2 separate regions of the Homo sapiens genome follow, and region 1 is linked to region 2. Evidence: fine-mapped expression QTL. Tissue or cell type: whole blood. Region 2 holds a variant in brackets; the other region holds the start of a gene. All regions are shown on one strand. Distances are from middle to middle.

Region 1 (2,500 bases), 41 kb after region 2:
CGTGACAGATTCCAGGGTGATTTCTTAAGTGTGTCAAATTCAGGTCATGACAAATTCCAGGGTGCAGTCATGGTGTGGGTATCTGAAGAGCAAGTTTCAATAAGGCTCAAGGAAGGGTAGCTATTTGTACGCTTCCTGGGAAGCTGTCAGCAGATGAGAGGGACTCTGGGTATGAGTATAGGTGTTTTTCTTGAGCAACCATGTCTCTCTTCCCAACAGAAGTCTGATTTAGTGGAAACAGACTTTTCAGGATTTTTCTAGTGCAATAATCAAATCTCTAAAAATTGGCTTACGATGAAAGTGCTGCTTAGTCAAAATAGCATCTGCATATCTTTGATGCCGTAATCATGCTATCCAGAGTTCCTTAATACCAATGGTAATAAGGCGGGTGCAGGGAGCAGTTATCTGTGGTGAAGAAGCTTAATTGGGTGAGGGATATCCATGTGCCAAGATGAAAGAGCATTTATGGAACTTTATAGCTTTATGATTCATACAGAACATTTATAAAGCATTATAGTTACATGGAGTATTGGTGTCCAGATACTAGTAATCACAGACACTTCTATAATATTTCCACTATGCCAGGTGTTGTGTTGAGGGCTTTACATATATGAACTGACTTCATCCTCCCAATAGCCCTTTGACATATATACTATCATCATTACCATTATCTTCATTTTACAGATGAGGCAACTGAGGCCCAGAGAAGTCAAATCACTTGCCCACAAGTCATACACTTAGCAAATGGCAGAGCCAGGATTTGATCACAGGTAAATCCTGCACATACTGGAAGGAGGCAGTTAGCCCCTAGGCCTTCTGATAAGGAAATACAGGGTAATACTCACCTAATCAAGGCTAATAAGTAGTAGAGCTGGACTCTCATCCACGGCTGTCTGAGCCCCTAATCTCCAAGTCAGAGTGGTTCATTTGCCCAGATGACGACCTTTAGTTGTGAAAATGATCTCTGGCCTTTGCAGTCTTCCCTGGTGGAAAGAAAGCTTCAGAAAACCTTACTGGTGACAGGAAGTAGTTGCTCAATACATGTTTGTGGAATAAACAAATGAGTGACGATTGCCACACTCCCAGTGTCACAGTTGGCCCACAGAACACGTTTTACAGTTGAGTAATCTCAGATAAAGACAGGAACATGGTGTTTATAAGCTGCCCTTAATGGCAGAGAACACAGACAGAAACGAGGGAAGAGAGAGAAATTGGGGACCCTGAAGAAAGGGGGCCAGCAGCAGGTAGGTGCCATCAGGGACAAGAACAGCACCTCCCAGGGTGGGAGACCCCAGGCCTTTCTGGCAGCAGGTCTGGATGGAAAGTGGACAGGAGGCTCACCCGTCTGCATCCCCTGCTCCTGCCCCTGCTCGGCTACAAAAACCAAAGGGACAGCAGGTACCTCAATAAATATTTGTCCAATGCATGAATGAGTAAAGGTGAAGGAGGGGGAGTGGTTTGAAAGTCTATTCTCATCCTTCCAGCTGACCACACCCCGGTAGCCACTCCTGCATAAAGCTCTCCCCTCCTGTGACCAGCTGAGGACCTCAGGCTGCAGCGGAGCCATGCCCAGATACACGGTGCACGTACGTGGGGAATGGCTGGCAGTGCCCTGCCAGGACGCGCAGCTCACTGTGGGCTGGCTGGGCCGGGAGGCCGTGAGGCGCTATATCAAGAATAAGCCCGACAATGGTGGCTTCACCTCCGTGGATGACGCGCACTTCCTTGTGCGCCGGTGCAAGGGCCTGGGCCTGCTGGACAACGAGGACCGGCTCGAGGTGGCCCTAGAGAACAACGAGTTCGTGGAAGTGGGTGAGTGGCTGCAGGAGAGGGCCGCGAACGGGTGCGGTTTGGCCTGGCTTAGTCTTTGCAGCATTGAACCCCCACCTCAGGGAAAATGATGAGCAGAGGTCAGGCTTGCCGAGGCTGGCCCTGTGCAGGCACATGCCACGCCTCTGGGGATCTTAAGTCCTCACACAACCCTGTGAGATGGGTAGGATTCTCCTCCACCTCTGATGGAGGAGAAATCAGAGAGGAGGTAACTTACCCAGACTCCAGCAGCTAGTAAGTAACAAAGACTAGACTGGTACTCAAGGCTGCAGGTCTGAATCCCTTTGCAGTGACTGAATCATTTTGAGGTTATTTTGCCTTTCGAAAGAATCCACCCCCACCCCCAGACTGGAGGCCGGCAGCATAGCATCAGTTCAGATTTTGAAGAAAATAAAGCTGGGAATGGGGATGGAAGTGGAATTCTGTCTTGAACTTTCATCTAAACCCCTGGTCTCTGCCCTGACACCTACCTTTCTGCTTTTTGCTCTCCTCCTACATAAAGATGCTAAGACCACATGAAACCATCTGAAGCAGTTTTAAAGCAGCCATTTCTATAGAATTCATGGGCCAATGATGGGCCGTTCCTTGGTTTAACAGGGGGAACATGGCTGTACAATGTGATCTGTAACGAGTCTCCCGTGCATTGTTTTAGTTATAGAGGGTGATGCCA
Region 2 (2,760 bases):
TGGTATCTCAGAAAACAATTCCTACTGTAATTTATTTTTTGATGAATATATTAATGGAGGAATTTATTTGTGGTTGTGTGTGGATATTTTTATTTAAACACAAGTGGCATAAACTCTGTGGGTTCCTGGTAATCAATAATAGAAGATGATGATAATGACGTTCTTATTAAAACAAACTATCCTTTCTCCATACTAGATAAATAAGATGATTTGACTGTGTATTATTTGACTAAATGAATTCTATGTTATCTATTGTATTTGTCACCCTAGATTTGGTGACCTCAAAAAATGTTTGCGGCTCTGTGTGGTGGCTCGTACCTGTAATCCCAGCACTTTGGAAGGCCAAGGCAGGTGGATCCCTTGAGCTCAGAAGTTTGAGACCAGCTTGGGCAACATGACAAAACCCCATCTCTAAAAAAATATAAAAATTAGCCAGGCGTGGTGGCGGGCGCCTGTAGTCCCAGCTACTTGGAGGCTGAGGCACGAGAATCGCTTGAGTCCAGGAGGTTGAATGTGCAGTTACCCATGATCATGCCACTGTATCCAGCCTGGGCAACAGGACATTTGCCAAAAAAATCCGAAAATGCAAATGTTGATGACAAATTCTTACACCCTATGAATTAGGACCTATGCATGTGTAAGGTATTAGATTTCATAGTTTGGGATTTTTTGGTTTTATTTTGTTTTCCTTTGGCTTGCAGGGGCCAACACAAGGATATCCAGAAATATAGCAGTTTTTTGTTGTTGTTGCTGGAGCTAAATTTCGTCACTTTTGATAGAGAATTGAACCATACCAGCATGCTAAACCCATCAACTATCCCTCACACCTCTGAAATCTTTACTTTCTTCTTCTCTACCTTTTTGCCTCTGAGTCGATCCTTCTGCAGAAACTTTCCTCTTCTCCAGAAGCCCTTTCACCTGTATATCTAAACATGTTAAAGTTTTCTCTTGCCTTAAAAAGCAAACATTAAAAAAATTCTTTCTCGGCCGGGCGCGGTGGCTCACGCCTGTAATCCCAGCACTTTGGGAGGCCGAGGTGGGTGGATCACGAGGTCAGGAGATGCAGACCATCCTGGCTAACACGGTGAAACCCCGTCTCTGCTAAAAATACACACACAAAAAATTAGTCGGTCTTGGTGACGGGCGCCTGTAGTCCTTGGAGGCTCAGGCAGGAGAACGGTGTGAACCCGGGAGGCGGAGCTTGTGTGAGCCGAGATTGCGCCACTGCACTCCAGCCTAGGCGACAGAGCGAGACTCCGTCTCAAAAAAAAAAAAAAAAAAAGCTTTCTCAATGCTGCATTCCTCTCTAGCTTCCCCTTTATCTTCCCTTCTCACATTGGCCAAGCAACTTGACAGTGGTTTATGCTTCACCTCCCTCTTCTCTTCATTGCTCAATCCACTACTCTCTGGCTTCCATCTTCAACCAAATCAC[G/C]ACAGTCAACAAAATCACCACCTTCCCCATTCTCACCCCACTGCCAAATCTAGAGAATTTTCACTTCTTACTTCGGTGGTCCTCGGGACTGCATCTGGCATTGTTGGTTGGCTCTTTCTGGTTTATTTCATGGGTTTCTCTTCCTCTAGCCCTTTTTAAAACAATAAATTCTGGTGTTCTCTCAGCTTCCAACCTGTTTTCATTACCCTTCTCTTTACACACTCTTCTTGGGTTGAGCTTACCCACTGTCATAATTTCATCCACCACGTTATGTGACGTGGTCATGTCTACCTGGCACTTCCCCAGAGCTGTGGACTTAAATATCCAAGTGACTCATGGACATCTCCACTTCCACTCCCATAGGTTCTCAAATTTCATATGTCCAAAATTGAATTTAGCATCTTCCCCTTAAATCTGTCTGATTTAGTTTGAATATATGTCCCTACCAAATCTCATGTTGAATTATAATCTCCAGTGTTGGAGGTAGGGCCTGGTGGGAGGTGTTTGGGTCACGGGGGCAGAGCCCTCATGGCCTGGTGCTGTCCTCGCCACAGTGTCTTGTGGGATCTGATTGTTTAAGTGTGTGGCACCGGCCCCGCAATCTCTTGCTCTTGCTCGGGCCATGTAGAGGCCTGCCCCTTCTTCACCTTCTGCCATGATTGTAAGCTTCCTGAGGCCTACCTGGAAGCATACTGGAGCTATGCTTCCTGTACAGCCTGCGTAACTGTAAACCAATTAAACCCCTTTTCTTCCCAGTCTCAGGTATTTATAGCAATGCAAGTACAGCCTAACATACTGTCCTCTTCATATAGACTACTACCTCTGGTTAATGACTAGCCAGCCACTGAAGCCGAAAGCCTGGGCCACCTTCGTCTCCTCTCAATCTGTGAATCCACTTATATAAGTATTCCTTCTATTCATTCCTTCCTCTCTATCCTAACTTACTACTTACCTATGTCAGGCCCCCAGCATCTTCTGATTGAGCCATTTTAATAGTTTCCTAAATCTCCTGCTAATGGTTTTGATACCGCATTTTATAACATGAGTCTGACCATGCTTTATCAGTCGCCTGCTGAAAACTCTTCAGTGGGTCCCCCATTAATGCACCCAGGATTAAAAGGCCACCTATTTAAGGTCCTTCGAAACCTAGCCTCTTCCAATTTTTCCAGTTTTAATTTTGAGGCCCCACCCTAAAGGCAAGGCATCCTTCAATCCTCCTTCACCTGCCACAAAGGCCCCAGAGCTGAGCTAGATGTCCCAGCTCTGTACTCCCATTGCGACCAGTGCATAACTTTTATAGAAATTCATTAGTTTCTAAGATGGGAATG

Evidence for each region. PIP is the estimated chance that this variant, and not a neighbour inherited with it, causes the effect.
Region 1: HAL starts here. The variant in region 2 is fine-mapped to the expression of HAL in whole blood (TOPMed, PIP above 0.99).

The regions. Positions count from the first base shown.
Region 1 is chr12:95,994,976-95,997,475 of GRCh38, reverse strand. It overlaps HAL (histidine ammonia-lyase), which reads left to right and starts at 1,132. Exons shown (of 21, transcript NM_002108.4): 1 at 1,132-1,398; 2 at 1,485-1,812; 3 at 2,483-2,500. The coding sequence starts at 1,566. LOC102723340 (a long non-coding RNA gene) reads right to left here and starts at 994. Exons shown (of 4, transcript XR_945237.4): 1 at 846-994. RefSeq lists an enhancer at 750-919.
Region 2 is chr12:96,036,215-96,038,974 of GRCh38, reverse strand. It overlaps a transcript of LTA4H not described here. Among named protein-coding and RNA genes, the nearest start is that of TRD-GTC2-8, 1.6 kb to the right of the region's middle. RefSeq lists enhancers at 2,630-2,679, 2,700-2,749. The variant G/C (reference allele first, on the strand shown) is at 1,433.